Linked DNA regions of Homo sapiens. The protein of the gene in region 3 interacts with the protein of the main gene of each other region in a pairwise test. Each region holds a gene or a part of one and is shown on either strand. Other genes may lie near its edges.

Region 1 (8,155 bases), on a different chromosome or scaffold from region 3:
CCTTTTTTTATGAGACAGAGTGTCACTCTGTAACCCAGGCTGGAGTGTAGTGGTGCTATCTCTGCTTACTGTAACCTCTGTCTCCTGGGTTCAAGTGATTCTTGTGCCTCAGCCTCCCGAGTAGCTGAGATTACAGGCGTGAGCTACCACGCCCAGCTAATTTTTATATTTTTAGTAGAGACAGGGTTTTGCCTTGTTGGTCAGGCCGGTCTTGAATTCAAGTGATCCGCCTGGCCTGGCCTCCCAAAATGCTGGGATTATAGGTGTGAGCCACTGAGCCCAGTCACTAGTGTGTACCTTTTCAGTCTCCACTTCTCCCTACTCTCTAGATTTCCTAAACTTCCTTTTTCCTCTGCACTCTAAGCTAATGAGTTTACCTCTGAAGAAATCAAAGAAATTGCCATTATCTTCTCACCAACAAATCTACAAGCTGTACCACATGCTTCTCTCGTTGTGGTGGCTAGTTTTCTCTGCTTTCTTTTAACCCTCAACTTGAGCTCAGGATGCCATCTCTTCTCTCCTCTATTACTTGATACCATAACTGTTCTTCCCCCACCCCCTTTTTGAGAGAAGGTCTTGCTTTGTCACCCAGGCTGGAATGCAGTGGCATGAGCATGGCTCACTGCAGCCTCCACCTCCCAGGCTCAAAGGATCCTCCCACCTCAACCTCTGGAGTAGCTGGAACCACAGGCACTGCCATGCCCGGCTAATTTTTTAATTTTTTTTTATTTTTTATTTTTTGTCTCTCTCTGTTCCCCAGGCCGGTCTGGAACTCCTGGGCTCAAGCAATACTCCTGCCTTGGCCTCCCAAAGTGCTGGGATTGTAGGCATGAGCCACTGTGCCTGGCCTCTCTTTTCCACACGATTAATTTCTTGCTCTTTACTGGATCATTGCTATTAGCACACAAGTATTTCCATCTAAACAAAATACCTACTCTGCGTTTATTCAACATCCCTTACAGCTGTTGCTCCTTTTCTCTGCTGGCCTTCTCTGCAGAATTTCAATTGAACTGTCTATAGTCACAGTCTATTTTTTTGTGTGTGCGTGGGGCTGTTGAATAATTCCTTCCATAATTTTCTACTTTACAGACAAACTAATCAGTCTGTAGTTTACAAATCTGTTTTGAAGGACTATGGAAAACAAATGTCAATGACAATGAAATTTTAACATTTATTATACATTTAAGCAACTTTATGGGAAAAAGAATCTGATGAACATCAAATTACTTGCATGCTCTAAAATACCTTCATGCTTTGTAACTGTATATGCAGATGTTTTATATAGTAATAACTGAGGTGCACACTGTTTGTATTTACTTTTTTCATTTTAGTTATTAACAATATTTCATGTATACTTGTCCATTATTAATATTTTCAAAACAGAAAATATAAAATTGAATAGAGATCAATGCAAAATGTACTTTGGTTAAGAAAGAAATGCGGCTGGGCGCAGTGGCTTACACCTGTAATCCCAACACTTTGGGAGGCCGAGTTGGGCGGATCACCTGAGGTCGGGAGTTCGAGACCAGCCTGACCAACATGGAAAAACCCCGCGTACTAAAAATACAAAATTAGCCAGGCGTGGTGGCCTATAATCCCAGCTACTTGGGAGGCTGAGGCAAGAGAATCGGTTGAACCTGGGAGGCGGAGGTTGCAGTGAGCCAAGATCGCGCCATTGCACTCCAGCCTGGGCAACAAGAGCAATACTCCATCTGAAAAAAAAAATGCATAAGTATAGGATGTGGGAGACCCAATTTAACAGTAGTTCAAGTGAAAATAAAGGGCTTACCCATTTTAGTATGCTGTAAATTGAATATAACTCAATAGTGTAACATGGCTATTATTATATTTGTGAATGCATGCTTTTTAAATTTATTTTTATTTATTTTTATATTTTTAAGAGGCAGGATCTTTCTTGTTCCTTTGCCCAGGCAGGAGTGCAGTGGTGCAATCATAGCTTACTGCAGGTTCGAATTCCTGGGCACAAGTGATTCTCTTGTCTCAGCCTCCGGAGTACAGGATTACAGGTTACACCACCATACCCAGCTAATTTTTTATTAAAAAAAATTTTAAATTTAATTTTCTGGCGGGGCATGGTGGTTCACGCCTATAATCCCAGCACTTTGGAAGGCTGAGGTGGGAGGATCACTTGAGCTCAGGAGTTCAAGACTAGCCTGGGCTACATAGCAAGACATCGTGTATACAGAACAAAACAACAAAAACAAAGAAAAGAGAGAGAGAGAGGAAGGAAGGAAGAAAGGAAGGAAGGAAAAGAAAGAAAGAAAGAAAAAATTAGCAGGATGTGGCAACGCCTGTGGTCCCATCTACTCAGGAGACTGAGGTGGGAGGATTGCTTGAGCCCAGGAGGTGGAGGTTGCAGTGAGCCATGATTGCACCACTGCACTCTAGCCTGGGCAACAGAGCAAGACCCTGTTTCAAAAATAAAATAAATAAATAAAGGCCGGGCACGGTGGCTCATGCCTGTAACCCCAGCACTTTGGGAGGCCGAGGTGGGCGGATCACCTGAGGTCGGGAGTTTGAGACCAGCCTGACCAATATGGAGAAACCCCGTCTCTACTAAAAATACAAAATTAGCAGGCGTGGTGGCACATGCCTGTAATCCCAGCTACTAGGGAGGCTGAGGCAGGAGAATCGCTTGAACTCGGGAGGCGGAGGTTGCGGTGAGCCGAGATCGCGCCATTGCACTCCAGCCTGGGCAACAAGAGTGAAACTCCGTCTCAAAAAACAAATAAATAAATAAAAATAAAAATAAATAAATAGGCTGGGCGCGGTGGCTCACGCCTGTAATCCCAGCACTTTGGGAGGCCGAGGCGGGCGGATCACAAGGTCAGGAGATTGAGACCATCCTGGCTAACACGGTGAAATCCCGTCTTACTAAAAATACAAAAAAAAATTAGCCAGGCATGGTGGCGGGCGCCTGTAGTCCCAGCTACTCCGGAGGCTGAGGCAGGAGAATGGCGTGAACCCGGGAGGCGGAGCTTGCAGTGAGCAGAGATCGCGCCACTGCACTACAGCCTGGGCGACAGAGCAAGACTCCGTCTCAAAAATAAATAAATAAATAAAATTTCTTAGACACAGAGTCTTTTCCCTATGTTGCCCTGGTTGGTTTCAAACTCCTGGCCTTAAGTGATCCTCCCCTCCTGCCTCAGCCTCCTGAGTAGCTGGGATTACAGGCACACGTCACAGAGCCCAGCTGTCAGTGTATATACCTTTCTCCAAGACTTTAAATTTCTTTCTTTTCTTTTCTTTTTTTTTTGAGACGGAGTTTCGCTCTTGATGCCCAGCAGGCTGGAGTGCAATGGCGCGATTTCAGCTCACTGCAACCTCCTCCTCCCAGGTACAAGCGATTTTCCTGTCTCAGCCTCCCAAGTAGCTCAGATTACAGGCATGTGCCACCACGCCCGGCTAATTTTTTTTGTATTTAGTAGAGACAGGGTTTCACCACGTTAGTCAGACTGACCTCAGGTGATCCACCCACCTCGGCCTCCCAAAGTGCTGGGATTATAGGCGTGTGCCACGCACCCGGCCAAGACTATTAAGCACCCAGTAGGTGGTTTAAATTGAATGGAACCAGAAGCAGAACTTTGGCCAAAGAGATGGGGACAAAGGAATGAGAGCAAAGGTGAAAAAGGCAAAATGTCAAACAATATCATTCTTTTGGATAAAAATGTGGTCTTTTCCCTTGCAATGAGGTAATGCTAAGGAAGTTTTTTCCCCACAGTCTGCATATGCTTAGTACAGTTAAAATTAAATCATCGTAAAATAGAAACTACAACTAGCAAAGGTGTTGAGCATGAATTTCAATTAAAAATGATGTAGCAATATAAATATTAACAGAAAGTTTGAGTATCAACATTGTCTATAGAAAAAAGGTGGCTTAGTCAGCACACAACTATTAGTCACAGTGAGAAAACAAACAATTCTGAAATGTAGGGACCTGTTCACAGATCAAATATGTGTAAAGGACATATCCAGTCACCCAGAGATGTTTCTAGAGCATGTTCAGCTCAGTTTGTATCATCTGGGTGTGTTTTGTGTACATCTGTTTAACTTTCTTCTTGAGATAACGTAATTCTGCTCTTCCCAAGTTGTGTTGTTGTGGGTTTTTAAATTTTTGTTGTTGTTGTTTGTTTTTTGAGACAGGGTCTGGCTCTGTCGCCCAGGCTGTAGTTCAGTGGCGCGATCTAGGCTCACTGCAACCTCCGCCTCCGGGCTCAAGCCATCCTCCCACCTCAGCCTCCCAAGTAGCTGGGACTATACTGCCCAGGCTCCCATTTTCCAGTTGAGTGCTCCCTTTCCCTTTTTTTTCCCCTTTCTTCCTCCCAGCGTAGCTCATCTCTCAAAGCCGGTGGGGTGGACAGAGGAACAGTTTGGAGGTGGTGCCAAAGTAACATTCCATTTCTCTCCGGGTCTTCTCCCCTACCCTCCCATATTAATATTTGTTTTTTACTTGCCAAGAGGCAGGACCAAAGTTTCTGCAGGACCAAACTGCAGGTGCAGTTGCACCAAGCAACTTACATTCAAACAAACACAAAACCCCAAGCCAAGCCGGTCTCCGTAAATCCCACACCACGACTGCCTTTCCTACTTCCTCCTTAGAGGTACTTCTCAGCCCTCTAGCTCCAACTGAGAACCCAGCCAGTCAGGAAGTCGCTACTTCGGGAACACCAACCAATCAGGGGGCCGTCACCTGCTGAAGGTGCGGAATTCGTCTCCTGACGCGACAGTCTCCTGGGCCAATCTGAGGCAGCTCCTGTGGGGAAAGGCGCCAGTGCGCCGAGGCGGGGAGTGGCGGCGGGGTAACACCTGGCCGAGGTGACTCGTTCTGAAGAGCAGCGGTTCCTTACACCAATCGGAACGTGCAGGGGTGGGGAGCTGGCCAATCAGGCGCGGAGGGCGGGGCCGGGCGGGGTTCCACCTGGCGGCTGGCTCTCAGTCCCCTCGCTGTAGTCGCGGAGCTGTGTCTGTTCCCAGGAGTCCTTCGGCGGCTGTTGTGTCGGGAGCCTGATCGCGATGGGGACAAAGGCGCAAGTCGAGAGGAAACTGTTGTGCCTCTTCATATTGGCGATCCTGTTGTGTAAGTTCCCAGAGTTTCGGGAGGAATCGGTTGGTCGGGTCAGAGGTTGGAGGAAGGCTCTCCCCACGCCCCTAGCCCGCGGGAGGGGAGGAGCTCAGAAACCTTCCTATATCGTTCTGCGAATTATCTTTTCCACCCCTGGCTGGTCCCTCTTTCACCACTCTCACAGCTGGGTGAGTGGCTGGCTCCCCTCCCCCACACTGGTGAGTTGTGACCGCACCCCTCACGGCCACCAGGAGGGAGCTGACCCATCTGCACACACCAGAGGTACACTCCTCGTCCTCACTGGAGAGGGCCGTCGGGCCAAGGACCCTTCCACACTCATCTACCCAGCGCGCGCTCCACACGCACCTGGGAAGGGCCAGCCTGCCCCTCCAACGGCCACCCAGCATCCACGAACCCCGCTGCGCAGCCGGGAGCCTTGGCTCCTTTAACGGTCTTCGAAGAAAATCAAATGGAGGTGGTCTGGGGTGGAAGTCTCTTCCCCTAGCTTTTGCTGAAGGAGTCTCTGGCTCTTCTGAATCTTTGAATTGCGGCGGTTGCTCTGGGAAAATGTCTGGGTGCACAGTCTAAAGAGGAAATGCAATAGAAACCTGAAATTTCTCTAAGCGCAGCAGAGGTTCCAGCGAAGTTCCTTTATGGAATAACTACCTCAGGAGTCCTTAATACGTGTTGTTGATTGAGTGACTCTTCCCAGGGGGAGAGTGTATCTGTTGGTTGGCTGGATTCTCATCAGAGCCAGAGCTCTGCCCTCCCTCTGGCTGTGTATGAGAGTTTTTGTTTCCTTTGTAAACTCCCTTTCCTGAGGAACAATGAGGCTCACTTGCTAGGGCATGCCTCTGTCTCTAGATGTGTTTGTGTGGGGCTGAGCGTTTAGTCGGTTGGTTTGTGCGTTAGTCAACCTGTGGCAGTACCTGTGTGTTTATCTGATTCTTGAGTGTGCGTGTCGTTGTGTGAGTAGTTGTGTCAGTATGTGTTCTACATGAGTCTCCCCCCACCCCCAAGGTTCTTGTTTTAGAAAGTGTTAAATGAATGATTACAATCAGTTTGGTGTATGTAGATTCCCTGCCCTTAGATGGATTGACTGCTCATTTCTACCTTATCACAACATAAACCCTTGGGAGAGATTGGACCAGAGGCATATATCATCCTCTTTCTATTTTACTGATAAGGAAACAAGTCCAAAAGGGGAAATGACTTCAATGACAATAGAGTTAGGGGTGGAACCTGGGAATGGAACCAAACCCTCTTGACTTGCTTTTCCTTTTTCCATTCTTTGATCCAGCATCTCAGGCACCCTATAGCACAAGAACTGTTTGGGATACTGCTTCAGAATCTACTGTCTTACTTACCTTTAAACTTACTTTCCCACTAGCTTCTTCATTCATGTCTCCCTCTTTTTTTTTTTTTTTTTTTGAGTTAGAGTTTCGCTTGTTGCCCAGGCTCGAGTGCAATGGTGCCATCTTGGCCCACCGCAACCTCCGCCTTCCGGGTTTAAGCGATTCTCCTGCCTCAGCCTCCCGAGTAGCTGGAATTACAGGCATGCACCATCACGCCCGGCTAATTTTTTGTTTTTAGTAGAGATGGGGTTTCACCATGTTGGTCGGGCTGGTCTTGAATTCCTGCTCTCAGGTGATCCACCCGCCTCGGCCTCCCAACGTGCTGGGATTACAGGTGTGAGCCACCGCGGCTGGCCATGTCTTCCTTTTTTTCTACTCTTTGAGTTCCCTTTTCTTTAATTTCCCTTTTTTCCCTACCCCTTGCCTATTTTACTTCTGCCTGTATTTTAGAACTGCTAGTGACACCCATAGTCAATTTTTGGTTATGTGGTTCTGGTACTAAAGGTTTTTCCAACCTTTGTACTGTGCCAGTATTTTTCCCCTAAGCCCAGAAGTTTCTTCTGTGTGAGTGACTGTATTTGTAACAGTGTTTGTCTGTGACAGTATTTGTCAGGCTTAAAAGCTTCCTGGAGCTGCTTACTCCCTATCCTTTGCCACTGCTTCCTTTCTTTTTTCTCCCTCTAATTTCCTATATTATTTATGATAATCCTAAAATAATCATATACTGGCACTGGAAGGTCATGATAACACCATTTTGAGCTTGGAGGTGTCTTCAGGGAACCAAGCCACAGTAGTGCAGAGGGAACCTGAGATGATGTCGCATTAGCCTGTTAGGACAGTGGGTCCTGGGAAGTGACTTGTCCAGGGGATGGAGGAACTGACCTTGTAACTTTTAAATCAGGCTAGATCTGGGGTTGGGTTGGGGGAGGGGAGTGATTTGGTTAGTGCAAATGAGGATGGAAATGGGAGCTGGGCCACCATACCTGCATTCTAGCTTGGCTTTCTCTCTGCCTTGTTTGTGATCTTAGGCAGTAGCTCAGTCTTTTCATCTGTAAAATAGCAGTAATACTTGTCCCACCTTTGTCAGGAGGATCAACCAGCATAATAGTTACATTACATATACATGAAGGGATTATTTTTGGGCAGCTGTTATCCCCTGTGGATTTTGTGAGGATGGAAGAATGCCAGAATGCTGTCCCTAGCTGAGTAGGTAAAAAAGGAAGCAGGGAGATCCCAAATGGCTAGAGTCAGAAATCAAAAAGCAGGAGCTTTTTCTTGGGTGTCTAGCTTGTCCACTGTCCCTGAGAGGCGTGGATAGGTTGCCCATATGTTCTCCCTGTTCTTCATTGTGGGCTCTGCTGTCAGGGAGGAAGTAGAAAAGGCAAGATAGGACTGACAAGTCAGGCAAAGGCCTGGCCCCAGCTTGGGGAACCTAATGGAGGGGAAACCCTGACCCTGTGGGGCAGAGATCCAGAGGGTAGACACTGGGAGAGCTGGACTTGGGAAAAGTAAAACTGATGACCCAGAGTACTAGCCTCCCTTTCCCTAGGGAACCTGTCCCTTAGAAAAGGTTCAGCTGTCTACCAGGTAGGGAGAGACACAGTAGAGGTGAGTGTGGATAGGTCAACTTACAGTGTAACCACAGGGGAGAGAGGGAAACCTGGGTTGGAATGCTGGCATTTGCTCCCCTGCCCTTCCTTGAGTGTGGTATCATCAC
Region 2 (7,162 bases), on a different chromosome or scaffold from region 3:
CTCTGTGCCATTGGTCCCAGGACAAGGCACAGATACCACATCCCACATTGCTGTTGTAACTAAAAGGCAGCAGGCCAGGCTCCTGCAAAGATCCATCCACCCAGGGCACATCAGGAAAAAGGAAGGCTTTAATGCAAAGTCTTACAACAGCTTTGGGGAATTGTTACCGATTGAGGTCTCAGCCTTTTCCTGACTCATTTTCCAAAGGTTTTCAACTTCCCCAGCTGTGAAGTTTGACTTGCTAAACAAAGAAGATACTACAGCTTTTCCCCAGTGTGGCTCCTGTGGAAGCTCCCCCAACACACACAACATCACAGGTGTGGGTGGGCAGAGATAGAAAAAATTTTTTTTTCTAAATGTTTTTCTCTTAAGGAGCTAGGGATGACCTCATGAAAGTTTAGGGAATCTGTTCTTCCCCTCACTCCTTCCTCATTCCCATCCAACTCAGACATGCTTCTCTTCCTCTACCACACTGAGAATTGGCAGGGCTTTGGGTACGGGTGTAGCATTTGCCTGAGGATTAATATACCCCCATTTGAAAATCGTGGCAGCCACGCCCTGTTTGGGGTCTTGCTCTCTGTTGTACCTGGGACCAATTCCCTTGAGGTCAGGAGGAATCCATTCCCTTGGGCAGCCAGCCCTCTCTTCCATCCCCTCATATCCTTCAGGGGTGCATTACCTCTCCTGGGGCAGAATCTCCCCACCAACCCATCCTGCTCACACCACAATGGGCGTATCAGAGAAGACCGAGCTGACTGATTCTGGATCCGACATCCTCCGTTGGCCCTTGCCTGTGGCCTCAGGCACTGGCAGGGTGTTGCCTGGCTTGAGCTTGCCGTTTTGACCCTGCCCAGGTCCAGCAGGTTCCAGGAAAGCCACCCGCCGGTCAAAACCATCATCTTTGTCCCCACCAGCCATAGGATCATGGTTGGGTGTGGTACTAAGCATGGAAGAGCTGAGGCTGTCTCCTTGATGGCTGGAAGGCTTCTCTACACCCCGGCACCAGCAGCGGCAAGGGGTGAGGTATAGGTATATGAGGACCAGGACCACACTAAGGATACAGCCCACTAGGGTGGTATAGGCTGTGTTGAGGGTGTCATGGTGTCCGTGCAAGGTGAAATTGTGCACTTTCAATTCCACAGACAGTGTCTCATTGAAAGTCTCTCCCATGGCATAGCAGGTATACACACCACCGTCCTCGACCTGCACCTGCTGGAAAAGAAGACTGCCATCCTTAGACACACTCACTGTGCCATTGGTCACCTCATCTAGCACCCGTTCATTACTTGGTGTCACCCACACCTTGGTCATCCCTTGCTGCTTGGTGTCACACTTGATGATCAAGGTGTCACCCAGGTGGGCCTCCCAGGCACGCTCCTTGTACTCGCCACAGTTGAGGAAACTCAGGTTGAAGACATTGTGCAGCTTCTTGGAGTTCATGCAGTACAGATCCTCTTGAAAGTCCATCACGGAGCTCAGCTGCCGATACTGCCAGTGTGAAAACAGCTGGTAGAGCTCACAGTCGCAGTTCAGGGGGTTGTTATGTAGGTACAGCCCATTCTTGATCCAGGCCGGCAGCTTCTGCAGGTCAGGCAATGGCAAGTTCTTCAGCTTGTTAGAAGAGAGATCCAGGAGCGTTAGTTTGGGTAGCTTGGCTCCTTCCTTGACCAGTTCCAGAGGGAAGCGAGAGATCTGGTTCTGGCTCAAGTAGAGTTTCTGCAGCTGGGCCATGTCATCGAAGGCGCACCGGTCCACCGCCATGATGTGGTTATTGTAGAGCAGCAGCACCTCCAGTACTTGCAGGTCACTGAACAGGAACTCATCCAGTGTACGCAGCTGGTTGGAGGAGAGGTCCAGGTAGCGCAGGTTGGGTACCGGGGAAAAGGCCTCAGAGGAGATGAAGTTCAGGTGGTTGTGGCTCAGCAGCAGGGAGTGCAGTTGGGTCAGGCGCGTGGGGGTCCACTCGGCCCGCAGGCGGCTCAGGTTGTTGTGACTGAGGTCCAGTAGTGCTGTGTAACTGGGCAAGGAATGGGGCACATTGGGCAGCTGCTGCTTGGAGCAGCTGAGGATGTTGCTGGCGCACAAGCAGGCGGCAGGACAGCTAACCACGGCTCGGCCAGCTCTGGCCACCTCAAAAAGCAGCAGGGACAAGGACGGCAGCAGGAGCCAGAGGCCTCTCGGGTCACGGTGGGGGTGCATAGTGTCACTGGAGTGGGCGAGGAAGGCCACAAGGAAGATCTGGGAGGAGGTCACCCGGGCATGTTCTGGTGGGGTACGGAAGGGTCACTTGAGAGAAAGAGGATGGGTTTGTGGTCACCAAGGACTCCAGAGGGAAGGACACCCTCTCCCACTTCCCCTCCCACCCTTACCTCCACCCCCTTTGGGCTAGGAGAGAGAGATGCTGGGTAGTTTCCAGGCACTGTGCAGGCAGTGGGCTGTAAATATCGGCCGAAGAGGAGGTGGCCCGAGGGCCTACTGGGCTGGGGTCACAGGGGTGCAGGCTGCAGGTATGCACAGGATGGCAGGGACTGCTGGGAGTCACAGGGATGGCACGGGCAGGGTTTGGAGGTGGGGTCGGTGTGCCTTTTGGGAGGAGCTGAGGGAAGGTCAACAGGGCACCGGGCTGGGTAGGACGCGTCCGGTCGGGGTTGAGGGTCCCCGGGGCCTGTAGGGGCGGGCTCCCCCCGGGGCCTCCGGTCACTGCACCTGCTCGGCGAGGACGTGTCTCAGCCCATGGCCGGTCTGGGAGCTCCGTCGCGGCCTCTCCCGGCGGCGCCTCACCGGCCGGCCTGTCACTGCGCCCACCTTACGCAGGGGCCCGCGCCCGGCACCGTCGCCTCCCGGGGACTTGCGGGGCCCCGCTCCGCTCACCCTGCCACCGCCTCGACCGCTGAGCCCGCCGGAGCCCACCGACCGCGGTCGCTGCCTCCAGGTCCGCAGGCCTGGCGCGGATCGGTGCGGGGAGCCGGAGGCGCAGCGATCCCAGCGGAGGGAGCGGCGTGGGGGCAGCGAGCACCGCGCGCGCGCCCGTCGCCGCCGCCGGAGCCTCGGGGCGCGTGCGCGCGGCGGGGGCGGGGCGCACGTGCGTGTGTTTGTGTCGGAGCCGGCCGGGCGGACGCGCGCGGGGTCGTTCCCTCAACCAGCGAGCTCCGGACGCTGAGCTAAAGACGAAAATTGGCAGGAAGAGCGGCACTGGCCCCTTAGGCTCCGCTATAACTTCCTCCATCCCCCATTCCCCCATCTCCCAGCACCCTTCTCGCTACACAGACCGGCTCTCAGGAAAAGTCTAACTAAAGTGAATTCGCTGCACCTACTCGGGCAAGAGGCGTCACATGTCTTTTAATTTCGCAAATTGAAGAAATCTGGCTCAGCTCCCGCCTGCCAATGTTGGCGGGAAATTCATTAGTCACATTCTGAGGTTCCCCCTCCCTTCTCTCTGTGGCTGTGGGGTCTCAAAAATTGGGGGAGGGGTTCCCCCCACCCCACCCCCGTCTTGATGCTACTAGTTCATGACCCTTGAGGTACCACTGAAGGGCACAGCTCCTTAGCCTGCAAGCCAGCTGCGCAGGAGTGAGGGGAAAGGGGGTGTTTGGTGAGCCCAGGCCCCAGAACACCCCTTTACAGACACCTCATGCACCTCTCCCCACTCCACCTGCTACACACACACACACACACACACACACACACACACACACACACACGGACTGCATACAAGCCAGGGACAATTTCCATTCCTGGAAACTCCGAAACCCTTCCCAGCCCGGAGGAAGTCATTCAGCCCTTAGGTCTGGCCACTTGCCTTCTTCCTAAACCAGTGCCAGCTCCCCACTCCCCTTATGGAGCAATTGCAACATAGTTTCTCTGTTACCTAATCCTCAAGATGAAGGCCAGTGGTGGAGGTGGAGGGGTTTCTTCTTTAGGGTGGCCCCTGAAACAACAAGAAGCTGTTACTAGTGTATGTTGTTTGGGTTTGGGGGTGAGGAAAGAGAGAGATGCAGGAAGAGCCTAGACCTTATCATTCAAGATGTTAGCTGTTCTTGAGATGGTGGACCATAAGAAATTACCTTTTTATTTGTTCCAGTCTCTTATAACAGCAAGATCAAGACTGAAATTAATGTCTCAGTAGATTAGCTTGCTAAGAGTTTTAAAAAGAATTTATATCTGTCACATGTTTTACCATGAATTTTAGTGAATATATTATCTCTTCAAGGAGTATTAGCGTGTTAATCTTATGCATAGTGTGAAAAGGTCTTTCTGCAAGGTGCAGTGGCTCACACCTGTAATCCCAGCACTTTGGGAGGCTGCGGCAGGAGGATTGCTTGAACCCAGGAGTTCGAGAGCAGCCTGGGCAACATGGTGAGACTCTGTCTCTTAAAAAAAAAAAAGGCATGGTGGCACGCACCTGTGGTGCCCACTACTTGAGAGGCTGAGGTCGGAGGATCACTTGAGCCCTGGAGGTCAAGGCTGCAGTGAGCCATGTTTGTGTCACTGCATTCCAGCCTGGGTGACAGAGCAAGATCCTGTCTCAAAAAAAAAAAAAAAAAAGAAAGAAAGAAAGAAAGAAAGAAAGAAAGAAAGAAAGAAAGAAAGAAAGAAAAAAGAGAAAGATGTTCTGTTCTGTTCATTTCAGGCATCATTGAAAAGATGAGGAGGGTAATCTTTTTGGAGGACAAGGTGTGAAGAATCTTGAAATCACATTGCATCAGTTATCTATTGCTGCATAATCACATTACCCCAAAACTTAGTGACTTCCTACAGCAATATACATTTATTGCCTTTCACAGTGTCTGTTGGTCAGATTCAAGAGCAGTCTGGTGGACAGTTCTGGCTTGGCAGTTTCTCATGCAGTTATGCGTTAGATGGAGCTACAGTCATTAGAAGGCTTCACTGGGGCCATAGAGGCTCACTTAAATTCATGTGGCTGGCTGTTGGCAGGAAACCTCTATTCTTATCCATAAAGGTCTCTCCACAAGACAGCTTGAGTTTCCTCACAACACGGTAGCTGACTTCCCTCAGAGCAAGAGATGCAAGAGACAGCAAGACAGAAGTCACAGTGATCTGGCTCTTTGAAGTGATGGATATCACCTCCACTTTGGTCACATATGCAATTCCTGATTCAATATGGAAGAACTACACAAGGGCACAAATACCAGGAAGAGAGGATCATTGGGACCATCTTGGAGGCTGGCTATCACACACATCATCTCTGAAGTTACATCTATTTTTTAATTTTGAGAATTTTCAAACATACACAAAAGTGAATAGTACAATGAACTCCCATATACCCATCACCCATTTCAATAATTATTAAAGAAATGTCATCATTTTATTTTGTACAAATATTCCTGAGAAACATATGCTCCTCTCACCCCACCCCTCATCTGCATGTTGCATATTTTCTTTTCACCCCAGTGTTGTTCCAGGCTCTCTCCTCTCCCTTTCCTCTTTATTTTTATTTTTTAGACAGAGTTTCGCTGTTGTCACCCAGGCTGCAGTGCCGTGGCATGATCTTGGCTCACTGCAACCTCCGCCTCCTGGGTTCAAGTGGTTCTCCTGCCTCAGCCTCCCAAGTAGCTGGGATTACGGATGCCTGCTACCATGCCCAGCTAATTTTTATATTTTTAGTAATGACAGGGTTTCACCATGTTGGCCAGGCTGGTCTCGAACTCCTGACCTCAGGTAATCTGCCTGCCTCGGCCTCCCAAAGTGCTGGAATTACAGGTGTAAGCCACCATGCCCGGCCTCCCTTTCCTCTTTCTGCTGTGTCCAAGGCGTGGGAGAGAGACAGATAGAAAGAAAAAGGCCCCTTATGATGGATACCAGTTTCAAGAGTGGGTGTCTACAATTTGGAAGGGTCACCACACGATATGTTCTTTAATCAGTCTCTTTTTTCAGCTAATCCATATCCTTTTAAAAGTAATCATTTTGGCTGGGTGCGGTGGCTCACCCCTGTAATTCCAGCCCTTTGGGAGGCTGAGGCAGGCAAATCACATGAAGCAGGAGTTCGAGACCAGCCTGGCCAACATGGCAAAACTCCATCTCTACTAAAAATACAAAAATTAGCTGGGCGTGGTGGTACATGCCTGTAATCCCAGCTACTCGGGTAGCTGAGGCATGAGAATCACTTGAACCTGGGAGGTGGAAGTTGCCGTGAGCTGAGATCATGCCACTGTGCTCCAGCCTGGGTGACAGAGACTCTGTCTCAGAATAAATAAATAAATAAAAATATAAACTAACCATATCCTTTTAAAATGTTAATGTGCAGACAAATCAGCGGGGTATCTTATAATCATGGAGATTCTGAATCACCAGGACTGGGGTGTGGCCTGAGATTCTGCTTTTCCAGCAAACTAACAAGATGATGCCAATGCTTCTTTGAGACCACATTTTAAGTAGCAAGGATCTAGAGTTGTGCTGCCTAATTGGTAGCCAGCAGCATTTGTGGCTACTTAAATTAATTAAAATTAAATATAAATCACTTCTTCAGTTTCCTTAGCCACATTTCAAATGTTTATGGCCATATGTGGCCAGCTACCCTGTTGAACAACGCATTGTCACAGAAAGTTTCATGATGGCACTGGTTTAGATAATTGACTCATAATAACTTTCCCACAGGTGCTCTTTAGACCGGAACAACTATTAATTCACAACAAAAGAAGATCTGGGCAAGATAAATAGCAACAGGTTATTTAGTGAGTATGTATTTCCATTTGCTGGAATGGACCAACTCAATATTCCTAAATGCAATTTGAGAGGTTGTTTGGTTAGCTCAGCACTTGAGCAAAAGCAGCTGGATGTGTCTCCCAGTTTATGAGACTGGATGAATTCCTTTTCTCCACACTACAAGTATTTTTTGCTTTCTTAATAGCTAATACTAGCCATCAGAATCAGAGTGGAGAAGGCTGGTAGCAGTGGCTTATGCCTGTGATCCCAGCACTTTAGCAGGTCAAGGCAGGTGGATCATTTAAGCTCAGGAGTTCAAGACCAGCCTGGGCAACATGGAGAAACCCTGTCTCTACTTAAAATACAAAAATTAACCAGGCATGGTGGCATGCTTCTGTAGTCCCAGCTACTTGGGAGGCTGAAGTGGGAAGATGGCTTGAGCCCAGGAGGCAGAGGTTGCAGTGAGCCAAGATCATGCCACTGCACTCCAGCCTGGACA
Region 3 (7,223 bases):
CGATCTGGATCTTCTTTAGATCTTGAATATCTTTTAACAAGATTAGCCAGCTCTCCACTGGGGCCCATCAAACATACGGGGCTGCTGGGGGGATGCCTGCAAATTGAAATCTCAAGGGTTAGTCTCCCTCTGCCTTCTGTGAGGTTCTGGAGGCTGGAGTCACTGAAGTGTAATATAGAGTCAGTAAATGAATTACAAGTATAACAGAGTTTGACACATGTCCCACCCCATTTACTTTGATATCCTAGAGAAAGTGGTCTTACATCTTTCTTCCTGGCCCCGCGCCCCATATCCCTGTCCAGAGGGCAGACCTAGAGCCAAATCCTTACTTCATAGAAGAGCAGATTCTGGAACCCCAGGGTTTCTGGGAAGTGGAGAGAGAACAGGATTGGGCTAGAGGGTATTTTGGGCCTCTTAATGTAGCACTATGGGCTTGTGCCTGTCTCTGTAGGAATGTGACTCAGTATATGTGTGTGTGATTGTGAGGGTCATGACTGTATATAATGGGTTTGAGTGGGTCGTGTGTGAGAGAGACTATATCTGTGCCTGTCTGTATGGAGATCTGATTATGTACGTGTGTATGTGTCCTGGGGTGAGTCCCGTGGCCTCTAAGATTCCATAGATGTCTGTGTACCCTCTGGACAGGGATATGGGGTGCGGGGCCAGGAAGAAAGATGTAAGACCACTTTCTCTAGGATATCAAAGTAAGTGGGGTGGGACATATGTCAAACTCTGTTATACTTGTAATTCATTTACTGACTCTATATTACCTGAGACAGAGACCCAGCCTCAGTTTCCTCATGTCTGAAATAGAATTGATTAGCTGGGCATGGGGGTATGCACCTGTAGTCCTAGCTCCTCAGGAGCCTGAGGTGGGAGGATTGCTTGAGCCTAGAAGTCTGAGGCTGGAGTGAGCTATGGTTTTCTCACTGTACTTCAGCCTGATGACATAGTGAGACCCCCATTTCTAAAAAATAAAATAGGGTTGATAATTCCTGTCCTGCTCCTTCCCAGGGCTAGTGTAGAGCTCTAGGTAGAAGAAGGATAGGAAGGTAGTTTAGGGAGGATGATGAAATGTGAGGAGCAGAAGGAGGAGGAGGAAGAGACTGTCAGGTTGGAAGGCAGGGCAGGAAATGAACTTAACCTAGGGGCTTTAGGTGGAGAAGAGGCAGATTCTGCGCATGGACCATTGGGGTCCCTCAGAGTTCTGAAGGCCCCAGCCAGCTGGATCCCCACTTCATGTAAAGAGCATCTGCTTCAGAGAAATGGCTAGGATTAGCAGTGGGGTCTAGCTGTGAGTATGGGGTGGAGCCCCACTTCTTTACTTCATGTGACTGGAGTTTCCTCTCCTCCTGATTTGTCAGTGGGTAGACATGGGTGTTGAGGTATGGACACCCAATCTGATGAGACCTGGGGCTGGGAGCTATTAGAAAGAACTGGACGAAAAGGGCGAACAGGCGATCTGAAGGGAAGGAGTACCCTTTTGTGACCTAGTACATGACCTAGTACCTATTATCTCAGATAATGCATCAGATATTCCTGTTACGCTAGCCACTCCTGATCATCCCGCAAAACCCTGCCCCGCTAGCTCTAAAATGTCTTCCCTATCCTCCTTGGGGCTAATGTAATCACTCCCTCCTCTGGGTGCCCACAGTTCCCTGTGTTATCTATCACATCATATTTGTGTCTGTCTTCCCAACCAGATGGGGATCTCCTTGAAGGCAGGCACTGCATTTGAGTGAGAAAGTATTTGGGTTTTTTTATTTGTTTTAGAGGCAGGGTCTCATTTCCGTCACCCAGGCCAGAGTGTAGTGGCATGATCATAGCTCACTGCAGCCTCAAACTCCTGGGATCAAGCAGTCTTCCTAACCTCAGACTCCTGAGTAGTTAGGACTACAGATGTGAGCCACTACACCCAGCTTAATTAAAAAAAAAATTGTGGAGATGGGGTCTCGCCATGTTGCCTAGGCTGGAGTGCAGTGGCATGATCATAGCTCACTGCAGCCTCAACCACCAGGGCACAAGTAATCCTCCTGCCTCAGCCTCCTGAGTAGCTAGGACAATAGGTATGCACAACCATGCCCAGCTAATTTTTGTGTATGTGTGTGGAGACGGGGTCTCACACTGTTGCCCAGGCTGGTCTTGAACTCCTGACCTCAAGTGATCCTCCCACCTCGACTCCCAAAGCACTGGGATTATAGGCGTGAGCCACTGTGCCTGGCCAGAAAGTGTTGGTTGAATAAATGATTAAGACTCCCTAGCCCAGTGCCCTGGGGAAAGGAAGGCATGGTATAAGTCAATCATAGTCCAAGCAAAATTATAATATTTGTATAGTATATGGAGTTAAACAGACTAGGCTGTTTGCTCTGCCCCTTATGGCTGACCCCAAGGGCTGATGGCATCAATACCCTATTAGCTAGGTTATTGCATACCTTGCATACCTATTACCTGTTCTGGGCATACCAGTTAGGGAATTAAGATATAGATAGTTGCTGGAGTACTTGGTCCCTCTGGAGCAGTACTAGGTCTGTGACCCTGAGGGTATGTTGTCCCCACTGCCTGAGCCTACGGTGTTGGTTCCACCTTGGAATTTTTATATTTGCTCTGAATTTCCCACTCAGAGTATCCCAGAAATGGCCAGCCCTAGGAATAAAAGAAGCAAGCTAGTCCATCATATCTGTAATTGATTACTTTGCCTCTGCTCGCATATCCCCAGTGATGGGGAGCTTCCTTCCTCCCCAGGTAGCCTGTTCTAAGGAAGCTTAATAACTAATAATTAGCCTTTTTCTTTTATTTTCTTTCTTTATTTTTATTTAGATGTAGTCTCACTCTGTCGCCTAGGCTGGAGTGCAGTGTTGTGATCTCAGCTCACTGCAACCTCCGCCTCTTGGGTTCAAGCAATTCTCCTGCCTCAGCCTCCTGAGTAGCTGGGATTACAGGTGCCCGCCACCACACCTGGCTAATTTTTGTATTTTTGGTATTGACGGGGTTTCGTCATGTTGGCCAGGCTCGTCTCGAACTCCTGACCTCAGGTGATCCACCTGCCTTGGCCTCCCAAAGTGCTAGGATTAAAGGCGTGAGCCACCATGCCCAGCCTCTTTTTTTTTTCTTTCTTCTTCTTTTTTTTCTTTTAACAGAGATAGTTTCTCACTATGTTGCCCAGGCTGGTCTTCAACTCCTGAGCTCAAGTGATCCTCCTGCCTCAGCCTTCCAGAGTGCTAGGATTACAGGCTTGAGCCACTGTGCCTAGCCCAAGCTTTTTCTTTCCTTCTTTCCTTCTTTCCTTCTTTTCTTTCTTTCTTTCTTTCTTTCTTTCTTTCTTTCTTTCTTTCTTTCTTTCTTTCTTTCTTTCTCTTTCTTTCTTTTTTTCTTTTTTTCCTTCTTTCTTTCCTTCTTTCTTTCTTTTCTTTCTTTTCTTCCTTTCCTTCCCTTTCCCTTTCCCTTGCCCTTTCCCTTTCCCTTTCCCTTTCCTTTCCTTTCTTTTCTTTTCTTTTTGAGGCAGGGTCTTGCTCTGTTGCCCAGGCTGGAGTGCAGTGGCACAATCTTGGCTCACTGCGACCTCTGCCTCCTGGGTTCAAGCCATTCTTATGCCTCAGCCTCCCGAGTAGCTGAGATTACAGGCATGCACCACCGTGCCTGGCTCATTTTTTGTATTTTTAGGAGAGATGGGGTTTCACTATGCTGGCCAGGCTGAAGCTTTTACTTATAGTGAGTATGTACTTACTTTCCGGTGAGTCTCTGCCTTGGCCCTGGCTCTGCTTTGCCGTAGAACTATTCTCTCCTCGTGGCTTCAGGTCAGCCCTGTAGAGACAAGAAGACAGTAATGAGGGGCCTTGAGTCTGTCTTCTTCTTTTTTTTTTTTTCTTGAGATGGAATCTCGCTTTGTCACCCAGGCTGGAGTGCAATGGCACGATCTCGGCTTACTGCAACCTCCGCCTCCCAGGTTCAAGCGATTCTCCTGTCTCAGCCTCCCGAGTAGCTGGGATTACAGGCACACCGCCACCATGACTGGCTAACTTTTTGTATTTTAGTAGTGACGGGGTTTCACTGTGTTACCCAGGCTGGTCTCGAACTCCTGACCTCAGGCAATCCAGTTCCTTCAGGCAACCTTCCAAGGAAATGGTTTCCAGGCTCTTCCCTATCCTGAATGTACCGTTGAACTTGGCCCAGTTTGTCACTGTTCTCTGCTGGGCCTTGATTTGGGTATAGAACTCCAGGTGGCCTGGGCAGTACAGGCAAAAGCAGGACTATTCATTCTTATTCCTGGCTGTTAGACCTCTGTTGAGGCAGCCTGAGCTGCTATTAGCTGTTTCTGCACAGGTACAGGCTGAACATCGATATCTCATATTCAGGCTTGTTGAGATCTCTTTTGTATCCTGCTTCTGTCATCATAGGATTTAGCCATTTCTCCAGTGAGGCCCAACAAGCCCTCTCAGTCCTGCTCTAACAAAAAACGGCCAGACCCCTTTTTGCTTTCTCTCTTTCCCTTATTGGAAACCTGCCTATGACCCTGGATACAACTCTCAGGAAGGTCCCTGCCCCCATCACTGGCAAAGAAGCTACTGCCAGCTGACCTCAGCCACTATCACTTCTTCCCTTTGCAGAGTGTTCTAGGATTTATGACATATGCTTGTTGATCCTGGGAAGGATGTGTGCCTGGGCAGGCGTGGAGAATTGGGTACTGTGGGCGGGAGGGCAGGCCCTGAGGAGCAGGGGGTGGGATCCTCCAGTCTTAGAATAGTCCCAGTCTGGCTACAACCTTCAACCCAAGACCCGGATTCTTCAGCACCGAGTGTGAGTGTTCCTTCATGAGGCCCCCACCCCATTCCTGGGTCTCCTTAGTGGAGGGAAGTATGAGTGCCGAGGGGAGATTGGGTCCTAGGCCTTTTAATATCAAGCCATCTCTGTCTGCCTCAGCTTGATCCAGAGGGAAGCCCAGCTTGAGGGGTCAAGGTGTTTGGGCAGTGGGGTTGTGAGGGGGAGTTGTCGGCCAGGAGGGAGAAGAGATTGGAAGAAGCTCAGTTCCCTGGGTCTGGGTCTGACCTGGACAGAGATCTCCTGGGTCTGGCCCAGGACAGCAGGCTCAAGCTCAGTGGAGAAGGTTTCCATGACCCTCAGATTCCCCCAAACCTTGGATTGGGTGACATTGCATCTCCTCAGAGAGGGAGGAGATGTAGGTCTGGGCTTCCACAGGGACCTGGTATTTTAGGATCAGGGTACCGCTGGCCTGAGGCTTGGATCATTCAGAGCCTGGGGGTGGAATGGCTGGCAGCCTGTGGCCCCATTGAAATAGGCTCTGGGGCACTCCCTCTGTTCCTAGTTGAACTTGGGTAAGGAACAGGAATGTGGTCAGACAGGGTCAGTGGGAGGGCTTTGGCCATTCTGAGCCAACGGTCCTTTGTTAGTTGGCCTGAAAGAAGCCATGACTTAGAACCTGAAGCTGTCAGGTGGCAAGAGGCCTTAGTCCTGGTGTTTGATCCTGGCATAGTTCTGGGCCTCAGTCTCCCCTTCTGTGAAATGGGAATAATAACCTTTCTACCTCTGACCCTTCTCCTGAGTGGCTATGAGGGTTGTGAGAGTGAGGTGGGCCACCAGAGCTCCCTGTCCAAGCCACCGGGAGCCTCTCTTCTGTAGGCTCTTCAAGAGGTGGACCTAGAGTATCACTGTGCCAGGGGGATTCCTAAGCTCTGACCCTGCCTGTCTCTGCTGCTCCTGCCCCATCTCCCTCTGATCCTTCTCCTCTGCACTGTCTTCCTTTTCCCCTTATGCCTTTTCTACCCTTTCTGCTCTGGCTTTTCCTTATACTCTGAGGAGCCATCTCTGGAAAAGGCCCCACTTTCCCAGACCCAGGTGTCCTACCAGGCCCCAAGTTGTATCCCTCGTGCTGCTTAGGCCACGCCCTGCAGGATGTTCTCTGCGGCCTCCCAGCCTTTGGACCCCGATGGGACCTTGTTCCGGCTTCGCTTCACAGCCATGGTCTGGTGGGCCATCACTTTTCCTGTGTTCGGCTTCTTCTTCTGCATCATCTGGTCCCTGGTGTTCCACTTTGAGTACACGGTGGCCACTGACTGTGGGGTGAGTGCCAGCTCCCCAGCCCCTGGGTCAGGGCCAGGTCAGGAGGTGGCAGTTAGGGTAGAATTAGATAGTGGAGAGGAAGTGGAGGATCAGAGAGAGGGAAAGGGACAAGGGGATGGGGGAAGGGTAGGTAAGTCAGAGTCAGAGATAATTCATGGGGGGAGACTCAGAGAGAATAGAATCACAGTCCTCCCTGAGTTGGAAGATGATGATAGAAATGCAAGGGAGATGACGGGCGCAGTGGCTCATACCTGTAATCTCAGCACCTCGGGAGGGCGAAGCCAGTGGATCACTCGAGTTCAGTTCGAGACCAGCCTGGGCAACATGGTGAAACCCCGTCTGTACAAAAAATGCAAAAAAATTAGCTGGGTGCCCTGGCATGCCCCTGTAGTCCCAGCTACTTGGGAGGCTAAGGCAGGAGAATTGCTTGAGGCTGGGAGGTGGACATTTCAGTGAGCTGAGTTCACACCATTATACTCCAGCCTGGGTGACAGGAGTAAAACCCTGTCTCAAAAACAAAACAAAATAAAAAAAAAAAAACAGCAGGCTGTGCACTGTGGCTCATGCCTGTAATCCCAGCACTTTGAGAGGCCGAGGTGGGAGGATCACCTGAGGTCAGGAGTTTGAGACCAGCCTGGCCAACATGGTAAAACCCTGTCTCTACTAAAAAATACAAAAAAATTAGCTGGGCATGGTGATGTGTGCCTGTAATCCCAGCTACTCAGGAGGCTTGAGGCAAGAGAATTGCTTGAACCCGGGAGGCAGAGGTTGCAGTGAGCCAAGATCGTGCCAAAAAAAAAAAAAAAAACAATAACAGTGCAAGGGAGTTGGGGGTTAGAGGGAGGTGATAGGGGAAGAGAAGGGATTGGAATGGGCAGGAGAGATCATGAGAGGAAGGAGGCAGATTGGAAAGGAAGCCAGGACTGAGGAGGTAAAATGAGGCCAGAAGATGGGAGATGTAACAAGTGGCTTTGGCCCAGACTCGGGGACTGACCTTGGAGGATCCATCCTCAGCTCTGATCTGGATCCTCAAGCTTTGTTTCTCCTACTGGCAGCCCCAGGCCCCACCACCTGTATCCACTCAGGGATCTGCCAGCCAGAAACCTGGATGGACTTCTGTCTCCCACAATCAGTCCACTAGGCCTTTC
Region 4 (7,118 bases), on a different chromosome or scaffold from region 3:
ATCTTGACTGCTGACCTAGACTGGTGCCTTAACACTTGATCTCTGACTCCTGCCTTGTCCTTATCACACAAATCTAATCCCTGATTCCAATGTCTGGAATAATATGCTCACTAGGAAAGGATCTAAGTGAGGAGAGGTGAACAAATACAATGGGTACTGGGGTACAGAATGTATTAAACAAATCTGCAAAGTAATCTCAAATATAGTATATTAATAACCATCATCATCTCTTTTACAAATTCACTCCTCACATTTCATCTTCATAAAATATAAACATGAAGAGGAATCTTAATAAGAAATTCTACAGAAAACAAATATATACATAATAATCAAACAGGCAATTTCTGTTGAAAAAATAGAGAACACCATAAAAGCACAAAATTTTGTTTTTAAAATTAGCTTGCTCACCTCTCATTTATTCCAGTAAAATAAATGGAACTACTTGCTAATGTTATTTACTTCAGGATGATTATTACTAAGAAAAATCGAACTACATACAATATTTGGCAAATATTTATTCAGCCACTATTATAAATCAGGCATTGAACAAGGGGACTTAGAAGACAGGGGTAATCCAACTTGTGTTCAAATTCTTTGACAGTTATCCAAATTGAGATGTTTACCTATGTCCTTTATATTAGGCTATGATCCAGAGCAGTAAGATCCAACAGAAATGTTAACATAAGCAACATATACATTGAAATTCTCTAGTAATCTCATTTTTTAAAAAGTAAAAAAAAGTTAATTCTAATATATTATTTAACCTAGCATATGCAAAAGTTATCATTTCAACATGTAATCATACTTTTAAAAGACTGATAAGATGCTGACTTTTTTGCATAATAAATCTTTTTTCAAAGCCCACTATGTATTAAACATACACTTACAGCATCTTAATTCAGACTAGCCACATTTCAAGTGCTCAACAGCCACGTGTAGCTCGTTGTTACCCTACTGGACAGGACAAATCTAGATGGTGCTTATTAAAGAAGAAAATACACTCTGGGTTATGCAGCTAAATTTTAATAATGCTTTATTAAGAAAATTCAATTATCTGTTCTACTTGGAAATCAATACATTCTCCTTTCTCTGAACTCTTCTCTTTAAACAAATCATTCCAGAGAGTATATATACAAAAGCTGCTAAGAAAAGGAAAGACTAAGAATGATGAATTAAATTGAACACTCCTTCTTCGAATTACACGTTTTCACTGTTTCTCGTTAAAAGAACGTAAGTTATATACATGCCTTCACAGAAACCAAATACATTTCTTAAAAGCAGACACGGAGGAAAATGAGGGGTCAACTATTATGAATGACCCTCAAGTCTTAGTAGATACTGTGAAATTAGACCAGAATATAATTAAAGCAAATAAATCAGAATCTATGCACCTAAAACAACTCTTTGACTTTTTTCTTTTTTTTTTTTTTTTTTTTTTTTGAGACAGGGTTGCACTGTGTCACTCAGGGAGTGCAGCGATATCGGCTCACTGCAACCTCCGCCTCCCAGGCTCAAGTGATCCTACTGATTCAGCCTCCGAAGTAGCTTGGACTACAGGCGTGCGTCACCGTGCCCGTTTATTTTATTGTAGAAACGGGGTTTCGCCATATTGACCAGGCTGGTCTCGAACTCCAGGGCTCCAAAGATCGGCCAGCTTCGGCCTCCCAAAGTGCTGGGATTACAGGCGTGAGCCACCACACCCAGCCCATCTTTGACTTACAGAGTTGATCTTACTACTTATATTTAAAACATTCAAATTCAGTTAGGAGCTAATAATGGGGAAGAATCTCTAGTTTCATTTAAAGTTACTTTTTTTCCAATCTAGACATGTATTTTCTGTTATAATGTGTAAGTGTAGCTTTTCAGATTCATTCTTTAAAGGATAGTTCATTCTCATGGCAAATATACTTAAAATGTTAACAATTTAAAAAAAAAAACAACTTTGCTTTATCTTACCCTTGGCCCAATTCCAGACTAGAACTATGTGAAGTCAACATTATTTGTGTAACAAACACAAGATCTCTTTATAGGTTAGGCCTCAGTTTCAAAAGCATCAATTTCACTGATTATTTCCTAAGACAGTGCCTGGCACAAGGTATTGTCTTAATAAATATTTTTTGAATGAATGAATATCAAGTAACAGGTACTAATTATTAATACTTCCAGCATTTCAAAATGAAATGTTAAAAAGTGGACCCTTTCAATTAAAAGGTTTTACTAGAGACCGTATAAAAATTGGAAGCTACATTACAGTTAAGAAAACACTATCACTTGTTCTCATTGAATACAATATTTCTAAAGCAGAGTATTATCACTCTCATTTAATATTTAAGAAAGGTGGGGCCAAAATGGTTGAGTCATGTAATTATTAAGTAGTGGAGCCAGATTTCAAGCCCACGTCCTCAAATACAACTGTGTGGAGGTGTGACTTGGAATGGAATGTGCGGATATTATGAAAACTATATTCCATGTCCCCCTCTTTTTAAAAGAATTTCCATTACAAAAGCTTCAGAGGAAAAACACACAATGGATAGTTTTCAATTCCACACACACACACACACACACACACACACACACACTTTTTAACAAATTCAAACCTATTTAAAATATAACAACGGTAAGCATTGTCAATCGCAACAGAAAGTCGACCAGACAACAAGGCTACATCCTCCAATCTCTCCCTCCCGGGACACCCTGGGAATGAAAGCATCCCTTGCGGCCTGGGATAGACTCGTCCAGGCGCGGGGAAAAGGCGGCGCCTCGCCCCTGGGGCGCAGCCATCTCCAACCCCTAGGACGGCCAGGACAGCTGGCTCCAGCCTACCTGACAGGCTCCCGCCACCGCTTGAACCAGCCGCAGCAACTGGCCATCAGACTGAACATCCCGGGTCGCTCCTCCCACCACTTCCCATCCGAGCCCGGAGCGGACACCGGCACCCCGCTCTTCCCCGGGGGCCTCCGGCACTCCGAGACGCCCCTAAAGTGGATAAGTCGGGAGGAAAAGCCGGGAGGGAAGTGAAGGCGGCCGGCCCGAGCACTAAGCCTTGCTAACCGCGTGGGTCCGCGACGACTGCCCTCTTAGCCAAGGAACAACCTGACCAAAGACGCAGATACACCGTAGCCGAGTTAGCGGGACCCGGCTAAAGAAAAGCCCCGCGTCGACGTGCTGACGTTACTTCGAGGCGCGGAAGGCGTTCCCCAGGCAACGCCCGTACTGCGCTCGCCCAATCATCGGTTGAGGTCCTGAGGTAGAGGCCTCTGAGTGGCTGAAGAGTCCTGGCTACCCGCCCCTGCGCGAGACTAGGAAAAGAGAAAGGGGAGTACTCTATAAGAAGGAGGCGGAGCTCGAGGTAGCTCGTTCTCGTAACTAGGCAACCGGAGCGTCCGGAGATAAGCTGGAGGATCCGGGACAAATCTCCAGCAAGGCCTATCTTTATACCTACATAAAATGTGTTGCCAATCCACGGTGCTGTTCCTTTCCTTTCTCCAGTGTCCCCAACTGAGATTCAGAGATCTCAGGTCTTGTGCATGGGTTTTTCTTTTTCTTTCTTTCTTTTTTCTTGTTTTTTGTTTGTTTGTTTTTTGCTCAGGGATGGGGACCCTCTAGAATTCTGGCCGACTTAGGCAGCATGACTACAGGAACAATACACTGGGGCAATTCTTGTAAGTTAAAGACAAGGGGGAAATTCGCTTGCTAAATTTTCTCAGTAGTTCAGATGAGAGTGAAGCCTTAATCTCTAAAACGTTTATTACTGTTACATATGTGAAACGGAATTGTATGATATTTGTTGTAGGGGGGATTGTGATTACAAAAGAAAAATGCATTTCTTGTAGAAAATGTGAAAAATACTAAAAAGAAACAAGATGAAGAAAATGAGATCTCACAGGAGCTCTCAAAGATAACCATTTGGGGCCGGGCGCGGTGGCTCACGCCTGTAATCCCAGCACTTTGTGAGGCCGAGGCGGGCGGATCACGAGGCCAGGTGATCTAGACCATCCTGGCTAACATGGTGAAACCCCGTCTCTAGTAAAAATACAAAAAAAAAAAAACAAAAAAAAACAAAAACGGGTGTGGTGGCACGCGCCTGTAGTCCCAGCTACGCTGGAGACTGAGGCAGGGGAATTGCTTGAACCCGGGAGGCGGAGGTTGCAGTGAGCCGAGATCGCGCCACTGCACTCCAGTCTGGGCAACAGAGCAAGACTCCGTCTCAAAAATAAATAAATAACCATTTTGATGTATGTTTGTTTCAGGATTTTTAGGTACATAAATTGCTGGCTATTTGGTATCTGCAAGATGAAGATTGTTATCTCTTGACTGTTTTGTAATAGTTTATTTTTTAAAGAGGTATGTAATATTTGCATTTCTTTTATATACTTTGGAGAAAAAGAAATGACAAGGACATTCCTGTAGGGAAAAAATTATGCACAATATGTAGGGATCTGTGTGTCCATTCATTTTCTACTTAAATAAATATTTTCAAATCCTGATGAAAGGATAGAAGGCACTGAGAATCCCAGTGTATTCGCGGGGAATATAATGATTTGAGACTAAGATACATATAGGTTTTAAATTAGTCTCTGTCCTTTACTAAATCATGTAACTTTTTTTGGTTTTGTTTTGTTTTGTTTGAGACAGAGTCTCCCTCTATCACCCAGGTTGGAGTACAGTGGCATGATCTCGATTCACTGCAACCTCCGCTTCCTGGGGTCAAGTGATCCTCCTTCCTCAGTCTCCCAAGTAGCTGGGACTAGAGACGTGCACCATCACGCCCAGCTGATTTTTGTATTTTTTGTAGAGACAGGGTTTCATCATGTTGCCCAGGCTGGTCTCAAACTCCTGGCCTCAAATGATCCGCCTGCCTCGGCCTCCCAAAAGTGCTGGGATTATAGACATGAGCCATGGCACCCAGCCTCATGTAATTTTAATTCAAATTTATATACATCTCATACAGCTTGCTATCTCCAAAATACTGTGCCTTATGGGGAACAAAGGGGGTGATACCTTTTCTTCTCATCATAACAGTCACAGCCAACACTCATATAACAAAAAGAATAGCAAGAGAAAAGCATAACAAATTTATTTAATCCAAGTTTTATGTGACATGGGAACCTTGCAAATGGAGATGCAAAGATGCAGGGAAGACTACCCATTTTTATACTTGGGTTCGATGAAGAATGAAAAACCCTGAAGAACTCTCATTGGTCAAAAAGGATATGACCTAATGAGAGCAGACTGTGTGGAGAAACTCAGCAAGGCCTGTCTGTTCAGATTCCTCTTGACCTGATTGTTCAGCATTCCTTCTTCCAGGGTATGGGGTAGGACCCTTTCTAGAATGGGAGTCTTAAGACGTACTATCAAACAATGCAAGTCAAAGAATTTATTTATGGGCAGGTCTTTCATGGAAAGGAAGAAGGTTAGAGTAATATTTTGGGGTTTGTGGCTGGCTTTGGGGAAAGGGGGTTGTGGTTTCTATAACTGCACCTGGAGAAAGAGGAATTATAGTTTCTATGGCTTGCATAGTGGGAGAATGAGGGGCAAGAGACGAGGAACAGAAGGTTAGAGACAGAAACTTTGCTTCTGAGGCCTTTATTCTGGGATATTTTCTTCTAAGCTCCAACAACCCTATCTATAACATGGAAATTAAAATACCTACTTTTCCAGGTTGCTAAGGTGATGAAATGAGAGAAATGAAGCTCAAGTGTAATTTCTGATAAATAATAGATAGCAAATTTTAAAGTTGGTGTCACCTGTCCCATAAACACTTATGGTATGTGTCCTCCTACCTCCAAATATCCATGGTGGGAGACAGGAGAGCAGGGCAGGATAAGACTGCAATGCTCCATTAACTCCAAGCCAATTTAGGACTGTTTCTGCTGACTCTACTTTCATGACTCACTTTCTTAAACTAGTGTCTTGCAAACCCTAAAGTTATATTGTTTGTATTCACTCTTTGATCCATTTACTATGATTGGGCTTCTGTCCCATCTAACTACTGAAAGCATATTTTTTGATATAACTTATATCTTCCTAATTACCAAATCGGTTTTCTTTTCTATTATTTAATATATATATAATATAGTTAACTTTTCTAAAACTGTTTCCTGCCTTGGTCTTTCACAGTTATGCACTGCACTACCCTACCCTGGTTCTCTTCTTCTTTGTTTTTTTAACTTATTATGGACCGCTTCATGAATTTGCATGTCATCCTTGTTCAGGGGCCATGCTAATCTTCTCTGTATCATTCCAATTGTTGTATATGTGCTGATGAAGTGAGCACAACCCCTGGTTCTCTTCTGATCTCCCAGGCCATTCCTCCTCTGGATTTCTATATGTAACTTCTAAGATATGACCTTACCCCTCTGCTTTTCTTTTTTAAAACATGTTGTCTTGATGGAATTTGATTATTATTTCTGTGACTGAAGGATCTCATGATGTGTATGTTTCTTGAGCATTTTTAGAACTATATTCAAGACTGTTTTTTCACAAATATATACTCAACACCAGTTTTGCAGTAAATCCTCATTTATCTTCATCCAGAGGTTCTTAGAAACTATAATTTTAAACAAAATAACATACAATAAAACCAATTTTACCACAGACAAATTGATATAAATCAATTAAGTTCCTGTGGCACATTTCTGGTCACAAAAACATCACCAAACTTCAAAATAAAGATGGAACCACTAGTAATAGTAAACATTGAAATAAATGTGAGCTATACATTAAGAAAGATGAATAACAACAAGTAAGATAATTATTTGTCCACTTATTCCAGTTCAGGATCATAGGTGGCATCTCAGGGTAAAAGGTGAGAACTAGCCCTTGACAGGACACCATTCCATCACAGGGTGCTCTCATACATGCCCACACTCACTTAGACTGGGACAGTTTAAACACACCAATTCACCTAACATCCACATCTTTCAGATGTGGGAGGAAAATGGAGTACCTGGAGAAAACCCATGCAGACGTGGGGAGAACATGCAAACTCCATACACACAGTGGCCTGGGCCAGTAGTTGATTTTATTTTTCTCAGCCATGTCATAATGAAACAATACTATTAAAGCATCTGCTCTACTTCATGCCTTCCCCATTTCTGCTAGTGATAACATTACCG

The links.
Region 1: the proteins of PGAP2 (region 3) and F11R interact in binary tests that used the Homo sapiens proteins (3 or more experiments, as listed by UniProt).
Region 2: the proteins of PGAP2 (region 3) and AMIGO1 interact in binary tests that used the Homo sapiens proteins (3 or more experiments, as listed by UniProt).
Region 4: the proteins of PGAP2 (region 3) and ARL13B interact in binary tests that used the Homo sapiens proteins (3 or more experiments, as listed by UniProt).

The regions. Positions count from the first base shown.
Region 1 is NC_000001.11:161,017,953-161,026,107, reverse strand, and holds the start of F11R (junctional adhesion molecule A isoform 1 precursor), read left to right. Parts: upstream 1-4,955; 5' UTR 4,956-5,034; coding exon 5,035-5,098; intron 5,099-8,155. UniProt on the Homo sapiens protein: Seems to play a role in epithelial tight junction formation. Appears early in primordial forms of cell junctions and recruits PARD3.
Region 2 is NC_000001.11:109,506,714-109,513,875, forward strand, and holds the start of AMIGO1 (amphoterin-induced protein 1 precursor), read right to left. Parts: upstream 3,015-7,162; 5' UTR 2,707-3,014; intron 2,287-2,706; 5' UTR 2,200-2,286; coding exon 718-2,199; 3' UTR 1-717. UniProt on the Homo sapiens protein: Promotes growth and fasciculation of neurites from cultured hippocampal neurons. May be involved in fasciculation as well as myelination of developing neural axons. May have a role in regeneration as well as neural plasticity in the adult nervous system.
Region 3 is NC_000011.10:3,811,461-3,818,683, forward strand, and holds part of PGAP2 (acyltransferase PGAP2), read left to right. Parts: exon of another isoform or gene 1-96; intron 97-3,724; exon of another isoform or gene 3,725-4,626; coding exon of another isoform or gene 4,627-4,794; intron 4,795-5,844; coding exon of another isoform or gene 5,845-5,892; coding exon 5,893-6,075; intron 6,076-7,223.
Region 4 is NC_000003.12:93,976,188-93,983,305, reverse strand, and holds the start of ARL13B (ADP-ribosylation factor-like protein 13B), read right to left. Parts: upstream 3,152-7,118; 5' UTR 2,883-3,151; coding exon 2,824-2,882; intron 1-2,823. UniProt on the Homo sapiens protein: Cilium-specific protein required to control the microtubule-based, ciliary axoneme structure. May act by maintaining the association between IFT subcomplexes A and B. Binds GTP but is not able to hydrolyze fit; the GTPase activity remains unclear.